Homo sapiens: one gene and its partners. The protein of the gene in region 2 interacts with the protein of the main gene of each other region in a pairwise test. Each region holds a gene or a part of one and is shown on either strand. Other genes may lie near its edges. The genes, in order: FAM221B, EFHC2 and RHOBTB3.

What was found.
Region 1: the proteins of EFHC2 (region 2) and FAM221B interact in binary tests that used the Homo sapiens proteins (3 or more experiments, as listed by UniProt).
Region 3: the proteins of EFHC2 (region 2) and RHOBTB3 interact in binary tests that used the Homo sapiens proteins (3 or more experiments, as listed by UniProt).

What each region holds. Positions count from the first base shown.
Region 1 is NC_000009.12:35,815,829-35,818,827, forward strand, and holds the end of FAM221B (protein FAM221B), read right to left. Parts: exon of another isoform or gene 2,679-2,999; coding exon 2,641-2,678; coding exon of another isoform or gene 2,619-2,640; 3' UTR 563-2,618; downstream 1-562.
Region 2 is NC_000023.11:44,333,547-44,337,203, forward strand, and holds part of EFHC2 (EF-hand domain-containing family member C2), read right to left. Parts: intron 1-3,657. UniProt on the Homo sapiens protein: Microtubule inner protein (MIP) part of the dynein-decorated doublet microtubules (DMTs) in cilia axoneme, which is required for motile cilia beating.
Region 3 is NC_000005.10:95,783,262-95,786,918, reverse strand, and holds part of RHOBTB3 (rho-related BTB domain-containing protein 3), read right to left. Parts: intron 3,123-3,657; coding exon 2,956-3,122; intron 1-2,955. UniProt on the Homo sapiens protein: Rab9-regulated ATPase required for endosome to Golgi transport. Involved in transport vesicle docking at the Golgi complex, possibly by participating in release M6PRBP1/TIP47 from vesicles to permit their efficient docking and fusion at the Golgi.

The DNA of each region.
Region 1 (2,999 bases), on a different chromosome or scaffold from region 2:
CTATATTTGCCGCACAAGAATTATAATAAGCAAAGGAGTATGTATTCATTGTTCTTTTCTAATCGGAAAAGGTGTGTGATACAGTTAGCTCGGTGCCTGGTGTTTTCTTTTTTTTTCTTTTTTTCTTTTTTCTTTTTTTTTTTTTTTGAGACGGAGTCTCGCTCTGTCGCCCAGGCTGGAGTGCAGTGGCGCGATCTCGGCTCACTGCAAGCTCCGCCTCCCGAGTTCACGCCATTCTCCTGCCTCAGCCTCCCGAGTAGCTGGGACTACAGGCACCCGCCACCACGCCCGGCTAATTTTTTGTATTTTTATTAGAGACGGGGTTTCACCGTGTTAGCCAGGATGGTCTCGATCTCCTGACCTCGTGATCCTCCTGCCTCGGCCTCCCAAGGTGCTGGGATTACAGGTATGAGGCACCAATAAGTCAGGTTTGCACTGCTGGAATATATATTTTTGACATAAGAAACGTGGGGTCACAAAATACTAATATTCTCAGACGCTAGGTAAGTTTTAGTCTGATATCACATAGGACAAGTTACCACTGTTTCTTTGGTTTTTCTTTTTTTCTTTTTTTTTTTTTTAAACACATGACCTGATACATATAGGTGGTCAGTAATTGTTGAATGAATAACATTTGGTGTTTCCTGTCTTTTTTTCATAATATGTAATATGTATTGCATATGATACTAACCCATGTGTAATCAATTTTTCATATTTTTACAGTCTACGTAAATATAGTTTGTATTGGCTGCTTATTATTTCCTTCAATGAGTTTATCATAGTAATCCTAACTCTATTGTTGACTATTAGTTGAATTAGTTTTAGGTGAATGGTTATCATGGGGCATATAACCACTGTTGGGGAACTTTGCTTCTAGAGATATAACAATCTCTTTTGTATAGCTATATTATTGTTAGAAAATCCTTTCTCCTCTAAAGGGCAGACATTTGATTCTGTGATTTTCCCCAGGGATCCTAGCAGTCCAGATTGCATTCCTTCCCTTGGAGGAACAGATGGCCCCCCTAATTGTGAGGAAATGTAGAATGGCCTCTTCTCTGGGCCCCAGAGGCTGCAGTTCTCTGTGGTGCCTCTGGGACACTGGGAGACCCTAGAGTTGCCCTGGAGAAGGGCGAGAGATAAGTGGATCTGGGATCTAGGAAGAGGAAGGAAGCCAGTCTGGAGGATAGGTGGATACAAAGCACTTTGAAATTAGTTATTTCTTTGGTTCTCATAGAAAGTAGGCAACACAGAGGTTATTCCTGTTTTACAGGTCCAGAAACTCAGCCTAAAGAGGGACAGTGACTTGCCTGGGTTCACAGAGCCCATTAGTGCTGGAATCTCCTACTCCCATAAGAACCTATGGACTCCCTTGTGACTTCCCACATTCACTGATTTTGATCCTTGGCCCACAGTTTTCTCTACTTCAAGCACTTATCACCTTCACTTGCCCTCATCTGAAAGATGTTATGCTCTGCAGCCTCTGAACACTGTCTCTTGTACTCCAACCCCTGCCCCTACGTCTGCTACTGTACCTCATTAGAGACTTCTCTTCCTTTGACTGCTCCCTTTTTCAATCTGTCATTTGCCTCCTGGCATCACTTTCTTTCCCTATTGGTGCTGTATGCTCCCTTCACATCCTCATGCCTTCTTTTGCTTAGTTTTCCTGATCTTCCTCCCTGACACCCTCACATCATCAACCCATTAAATATTTGGATTCTCTGCTTCTCTAACTAGGTTCTCACTTCCAACTGTGCCCGAATCCTGAACTACCCACTGATGAGGTTTTTCTCCAGTTCCCTACATTAGCCTTCCCAAACCTTCCCCTTTCTCTTCTTGTCTCCTGCTCCCTACTCTTATCCCTCTTCCCCTGGACCCCAGCCATTGGCCTTATCTCCTACTTCACAGGGCATATAGAAGCCATCAGAGGGGAACTTCCACAGGTTCTTGTTCCCTGAAACTCTAGGAAGGCTCCATCCTCTTCCTTCGTCTTGGTCATAGGAAGTGGTGTTTCTCCTGTCCAGAGAAAATCCCTTCACCTCTGCTTTGACCTCATCCCTTTCCTCCATCTCTGGGATCTTGTCTCACCAGGCATCTCTTCTCTCTCTTCTGGGTCCTTCAAGGTCCTTTAGTCTACTGGCCTCTTCCCCTTTTCCTTCCTACAAAAGTACTTCCTTGACTCCACAACTCCCTCTGGATATTGTCTGACTTTACTTTTGTACTTTTCATCCAAGCTTCTTTAAGAGACTCCTTGAAACTCACTGCTGTTTGACTCCTGCCTCCACTGCACCAGTGTGAAACTGCACTCTCCGATGTTCCCAAAGATCTTCTAATTGCAAAACCCAATGGACACTTTTCAGTCTTTATCTTATTGGTGCCCCAACTGCATCTAACATCACTTCCCACTCTATCCTTCTTGAAACTTCCTCCCTTCTTGACTTCCTTGAAGCCACTTTCCTTCAACAGGCAGCTTGAATGTGAGTGTGATGGAGGCAGATGGCCAGATCCAGGCTTTCTCCTGTGTCTAATAGGTGTCAACTCTAAGTTATTAGGCAGTCTCTCCCTGGGCTGGGATCTACCTGCCCCATATAGAGCCAAGTCAGGTTCCAATGACTCCTCTTTTATTGCTGATCTGGGCCAGACTCACAAAGGCCTGTGCCAGTTGCTGACAGTGTCTGTCCCTGGAGGAAGAAAGAGCAGAGGTGAAAGGGTCAGGTATGGGGGTCAGAAGGGAGGCCAGGCTGGAGACCGTGTGAACCAGGGAGCCCCGGGGGACTAGGGTGGGAGCTGGGAAGGCCAGAGGGCCCCTGTATCTGCAGGGCCTAGAAGTCAGAGTTGCTGAGGATGGCTTCTCGGAGCACAGCCATCTCTGCAAAAGGTACATAGTCTGCTCCTGGGGGTGAAAACCAGTGCAGATGTGGGATGCAGGTAGGTGGGTGGTGGGGAGGTGGGCTGAGGGAGCGCGCTAGTCCTGGAAGGGATGGTTGAGGATGGGAGTGCCT
Region 2 (3,657 bases):
TACTCATGTGTTACTTGTATAATTTAAAAACACAAATTGTAATGAAAGGGATACTACTAAGTCTGACAATACCAGACTCACAGGTATTGTCTGTGGCTGGTGTGACAAAGTTTGTTGGCCACTATTGAACCCTCTTTTCCCTTTCCCACCTCCAAAAGTAGATGGTGAAAAAAAAAACAAGATAATTTCCCAGCATTCCTTGTAGTAAAGGATGGCCATGTGCATCAATTTTAGCAAATAAGATGGAAGGAGGGAATCTACTGGGGGGCTCCTGGAAAACATTTTGTTTTCTCATATAAGAAGAGCTGTTTCCCCTCCCTCTCCTTCCTGCTTGTCTTGAACATGGTTACATGTAGTTGTGATGACTGGAACTGAGGCAACTATTTTGCAACTATGAGGTCACAAGCCTAAGAAAGAAAAGCCAATATTCTGAAGATGGCAGAATGCAGAGATAAAAAGAGCCTGGGTTCTTTATGACATTCATCAGTCACTGCCTAAATCTGAAACTGCTACACCTCTAAAGTTCTTATGAGAAAATTAATTTGGCTTAAACCACTGTTAGTCAGGTATTCTGTGACTTATAGTCAAATGTACCCTAGGTGACAGAGCTACGAAGTTCAGTACAGAATGCATGGTGACCAAAATTAGGTGTTTGAATCCTACATAGGCAAAGAGACTCTAATTCCTGAAATTCAAATGAACATTTAGGAATAGCAATGGAATATGTTATTTCCAAAGTATGGATGGCAGCTTCAATAAGCGGCCCAATCTGAAATAATGTAATTTCAAGGATATTTTAATAGTTACTGGGAACAAAGTGACAGAATTCTTTATATCAAAACTATCCTGTGATCTAGCATAGTAGACAGCAATTGTTTTGTCTGCCCAGCAATCCCATACCACCAAAACTGGATTATTTGCCTTTTTGTTTGTTTGTTGGCTTTTTGAAATGAAGTTGCACTCTTGTTGCCCAGGCTGGAGTGCAATGGTGCGATCTCGGCTCACCACAACCTCTGCCTCCCAGGTTCAAGTGATTCTCCTGTCTCAGCCTCCCGAGTAGCTGGGATTACAGGCATGCGCCACCACGCCCGGCTAGTTTTGTATTTTTAGTAGAGACAGGTTTCTCCATGTTAGTCAGGCTGGTCTCAAACTCCTGACCTCAGGTGATCCGCCTGCCTCAGCCTCCCAAAGTGCTGGGATTACAGGCATGAGCCACCGCACCTGGCCTATTTGTCTTTTTATTATTGAGTTTTGGGAGTTATTTACATATTCTGAATATAGTCCCTTATCAGATAATATGCTTTATAAATATTTCCTCCCACACTGTCAGCTGCTTTTTCACTTTTCTGATAGTGTCTTTTGAAGCACAGTTTGGCTATTTATTGCAACATTATTGGATAACAAAAGACTGGAAATAATGTAACTGTACACCAAAAGGGGATGGTTGAATAAACTATTGTAAGTCTACAAAATGGAGTACTATGTAACTATAAAAAGAAATGAGGAAGAGCCCTATATACCACTACCAAGTGATCTCCAAGATATACTGTTAAAATGAAAAAAGGAAGGTTCAAAAGACTGTGTAGATTATGCTACCAAGTATTGAATAAAAGGGGAACATGTGAATAAATTTAACAATTTGCTGTTTTAAAAATTAAAAAAAAAAGAAAGAAGAGAAGGAGGAAGAGAAAGAGGATAACCTCAAACTAAATAAAGTTTTTTCTTTAAGTTATTATGGAGAGAGGGAGAGAATAAGATTGAAGAGACAGAGATAAAAGCTAGAGCTCTCTGAAAGTAACTTACTTTGCAAATTTGACTTTGAGACCATACAAATGCCTTTTTTTAAGTTCAGAAACAAAAGCACAATGAAACAAATGAACCTAACTAGATACTGAGTTGGTGACTTAACCATACCGACAGCAATGATTTAAATGAAACTAAAACCCAGTAATTTGACTATACATTCCTGGTGGGATATACTCTCACAACAGAAATAGCTATAAAGAAATCTTAAACTATTTTCAAAACTCAAATTGTTAATAATGTTATTATTAATTAAAAATTATTATATGGTTGTATATTTTTATTTATGTTAGGATAAGTAATTCAGCTAATGTACTTATGAAGCAAGATTACATGTAAATATATAAAATCAAAGAAGTAAAAACCCTATAATCCTTAATTTGCATTGAAAACAATAGTTTTTGAACTCATGTTATATTTTATCCTTAAATATATGTACATATTTTTTAGCCTTGCTTTAAGAGAATGAAAATTCAAGCCATAGACTGGAACAAAATATTTACAGACCATACATTCAATAATAGACTTGCACCCAACTTGTATCCAGACTATATTAAAAATGACTTTCAAAACTCATCAGGCGGATCGCCTGAGGTCAGGAATTCAAGTAAGGAAACTCCCCAATTAAATATGAGTAGAAGACACGAACAGACATTTCACCAAAGGGGATATACGGATGGCAAATAAGCACATAAAAAGATGTTCAACATCATAGCCATTAGGGAAATAAAAATTAAAATCAAGAGGAGATACCAGGCCGGGTGTGGTGGCTCAGGCCTGTAATCTCAGCACTTTGGGAGGCCGAGGTGGGTGGATCACCTGAGGTCAGGAGTTCAAGACCAGCCTGGCCAACATGGTGAAACCCCGTCTCTACCCAAAATACAAAAATTAGCCGGGCGTGGTGGCACACACCTGTAATCTCAGCTACTCGGGAGGCTGAGGCAGAAGAATAGCTTGAACTGGGAGGCAGAGGGTTGCAGTGAGCCAAGATCGCGCCACTACACTCCCCTGGGCGACAGAGTGAGACTCAGTCTCAAAAAAAAAAAAGAGAGAGAGAGAAAAGAGGAGATACCACTATACACCTATTAAAATGGCTAAAATCCAAAACACTGGCAATACCAATTGCTTACAAGGATTTGGAATAACAGAAATTCTCAATCATTGCTGGTGGGAATGCAAAATGGTAATTTCTTATCAAGATAAACACACACCTACCATATGGCCAGTTCAAAATTTACATAAAAGTAAGCATCCTGCCATTCATAGGAGAGCAATGACCATTTTGCTATAATTTTCAACTTCTTATACATGTAAGCAAAGCTTTCCTTGTTTAACAAGTATTGAAAAGGCCAGAAATCTTCTCATTCCAGTTGAAAATGAAATTGATGTGTGCTTATTTCAAGCTTGACCCGGAATTATTTATGTGGCAAAATATAAACACAGATTTCAGAGTGGAGAGGTAAATTTTATTATTTATTTTTAGCTTTTAAAAAATAAGACTGTTATGTACATACAGGTCTATAAAGAAATCAAGATTATAATTTTGTAACTGCCTATATTTAAGCCCAATCATGTCAGTCAGTAAAAGAACCTAATTTTTAAGTCTTGTATAAAATTATATCTTAGGTTATATTTTTACTCATAATGCTTTGTCATATAGTTTTAGTAGCTTTATTATGTAACATTGTCAATACATTTTGATGTTGAAAACAGCATTAATTACGAGTTTACAACCTTTATTTAAATTAAATCATCTTAGCCTACTTTTTGAAAAAGTAAATTCCATCTTAGATATAAACAGAAATAACTTGAATTATTTAACATGTTTATATTATGCTGACTGAAAAGTTTTTT
Region 3 (3,657 bases), on a different chromosome or scaffold from region 2:
TGGCCCAGATTCATAGTCTAGGGACTCTGTAACAGGAATGGAACATGTCTCACTGTAAAAACTAGGTTTTAGAAGGATATGTGTTGACGTAAGAAAATGGGTTCAAACTGAAATAAGCAACAGAATTTTTAAAAAGGCATTAAAAAACCATAAACCAAATGCAATAGAACTTAAGAGCTACAAGAAGAACGTGGAGAAAATACCCATAAACTCACAAGAAAGTACCTGGAAACTCTCAGAAATACAACTTGTGCCTCAGATAGCCAAATATTAACATATAGATTATAAATAAGAAGATGCATTAAAATTTTTAATACAAGAATAAATACAACTTCATAGGAATCACCAAAGTTTGAACAGATAGGGTTTAAACAGGAGTAGAGATACGGAATCTCCACCTCAACTCTTGTATTTTAAGAGTCCTCCTTGATGGAAACCTGAAGGTAAATCATGGTAAAGAACTGAGAGAGGTTAGGGGAAAATGGACAGAGAAGTGAGAGAATACCCACACTGCTCATCTATCTAAGAAAGTATGAATGATGTTTCCTGACACACAGTACAAAACTGGCAGAGTGTTCAGAAATTTTGATTATTTGGAGAGCTACTGGGAGTCTAATTCTGCCAGAAGACAATTTCACTCCTAAAAGTCAGAGAAATGGCAAGGCAAAAGTTAACCAAATTCTGACCAACAGGGTGAACTGACTGGTGAAGTGAAATCTCAAACTAGGAACTTCAAAGAAAACTTGGGAAGAAAACTTCTGTTATCTGGAATTCACAATTGCCAAATTAGGAACCACCAGGAAAAGAATACAGGAAAACTGGTAAATTTAGGCTTAATCTTAGAAAATAAAAAGTCTTCAGAAACAAAATTCAAAATGAGCTTGTATCTTAGATTGTTTGAAATTCAAGGGGAAAAGATAAGGATAATCACAGAGTCAGAAACCAGAGAATCAGGGAAAACAAGTCAAGAATTTCTGACAGTGCAATCAAAAATGATTCTGATGAGGAACCAAGTGTAGGGGGGCAGTGAGGGGAGGCACCTAAAGAAATCAATGTGACCACACGGGAAGTTCTCTTATACATAAACAATTTAAGAAGATACTAAAAGATAAGGAAAAAGAAACTTGTGTCCAATTTTTTAAAAAGTATGAACAACTTGTTAGAATAGTATGAAAATGATACATCAAAAATGAACTGAGATTGTGAAACTACTAGAAAGAATTTTAAAAATTGTAAACTAAATTTAGAGGGGAGCTATTTATCATGAGATGAATGTAAACGTTTTACAAAAAGAGATCAGTGTTACTCAATTTTTTTTTTTTTTTGAGACGGAGTCTCACTCTGTCACCCAGGCTGGAGTGCAGTGGCACGATCTCGGCTCACTGCAAGCTCCGCCTCCAGGGTTCACGCCATTCTCCTGCCTCAGCCTCCCAAGTAGCTGGGACTACAGGCACCCGCCACTATACCCAGCTAATTTTTTTTTGTATTTTTAGTAGAGACTGGGCTTCACTGTGTTAGCCAGGATGGTCTCGATCTCCTGACCTCGTGATCCGCCAGCCTCGGCCTCCCAAAGTGCTGGGATTCCAGGCGTAAGCCACCACGCCTGGCCCTACTCAATTTTTAAATTTGTTTTTAGCCCTAATTAAATACATGTGATCGTAAGACTTGATTATGAGAGAAATGAAGTCCAAAATAGTTAAGGAGATAGTAGGAGAAGACCTAGATGCTTCAAATAAATTCCCTTCTATAAACAGAAGTGTTGATGAATGAATTCGTTTCAGCTTGGAGGCAAGCATTCAGCTGTCACAGATCTGGAATTTGCCCCATCATGTGGCTCCATTTTAGCAATGTGGATGGAGATAAAAGTTGTCATGCTTTTGTAACCCTGGACGTCAAAGTTGATAGGTATAGACATGTTGGATGCCAGATAATAGTTCAAGAAGTACTGACACTCTGTAGTGATTGAACAAATATATTCCTGTGAAAAAAACCTAGAGGGCTCGGCTTACCACAAGTTGAGTACACAAGAGTGTGCCATAACTACCACAAGTGCTGAAACTGTCTCGGGCAGTGGATGGAATGGCAGAATGGCCAACGGTAGGATGGCCCATCTGAATAAGCTTTCTGCTTCCAGGAATGAAAGAAAGTGGGAATAAGGATTTGGCAGGTTTTTGACTGTGAGCACATCTGGGGGTTTGGGAAGTAGATTTCAACACAGTAGTCCTAGTTTATTTACAGACCTGGCTCTGATTCATAATTTAGGGCCTCTGTAACTGCAGTTACTTAAAATTAACTTAATTATGTAACTCCCCCACCCCCGTTCTCTAAAATCAGTAATGATATAATTATTGAAAACAAAAGACTCCGAGCTTACAAGAGGCCCAGAAGAAGCATGTACACATACGGCAGTGATTGCTAATAAGGTGAGACATGAAAACAAAAGGCATTCTGCAAGGATAAATGAGGCACACCAATATCTCCTACATACAACTGAAACTTCAAAACATGTTCATTATATGGATGAAAAAATGAAGAAGTAAATTAGTTTAGCTTAACCATCGCTATCAGTATATATGGACCAATTCTGTCATTTCCCTTTTAGGAACCTGAAGATGTGATTGTTTGGGGAAATTCAACATAAATTCTATTTCCTACAATGCCTATGTGACATAGTATAGCACCACATTCAAATGACTCTACTAAGGGCCACTATTTAGTTAAAAAAATTCCGTATCTGGACATTTTGCCTCCTTATAAAAGGGACTGCACACAAACCCTAACGCTTCAAAATTATCTAGCCAGATAAACTGTTGTGAAGGCACTTTAGCCTCATTAGCCAAACTTCCAAACTAAGACTAGTATTAACGTATGTTAAAAAATGATAAATTTTAAAATAGTATAATTTGAAAAATATTTTATAAAAAACTAGGCTATCAGATACACAGAGTCAATTACCTTGGCCTTTTTAAGCAGGTCAACTATATCAAGGTTCATGGATGCCAGTTCCCTGCTTGGCATGCTCTGCAGCTGGGTAATGATGAACAGCTCACAGATGTGCTGCAGTCTGGACACTTGGTACATCTCGGCACAGATCAGGAGACACATGGCCTGGAATATGCCAGCTGATGAGAAAAGGGACATGAGAGAAAGTGGATGATGAAACCATTTCTTTAATGATCTAAACACCCCCCACCAACAAAAAACAACAATTAAAAAAACATGCTGACCGTAGCATCCACCATAGAATAGAATGGTTAGGAAAAGCCTCGAGGGAGTCAGCATTCTGCACTTTTATTCCATTTTATCTTTTTTTTCTTTCCTTTCTTCTTCTTCTTTTTTTTTTTTTTTTTTTTTTTTGTAGAGACAGGTCTCACTATGTTGCCCAGGCTGGTCTTGAACTCCTGAGCTCAAATGATCCTCCTACTTTGGCCTCCCAAAGTGCTGGGATAACAGATGTGAGCCATCACACCCGGCCTATTATTCCATTTTAAAAAGAAGGGCCGGCGCAGTGGCTCACACCTGTAATCCCAGCACTTGGGGAGGCCGAGGTGGGCGGATCACGAGGTCAAGAAATCAAGTCCATCCTGGCGGACATGGTGAAACCTCATCTCTACTAAAAATAAAAAAAAATTAGCCAGGTGTGGTGGCGGGCGCCTG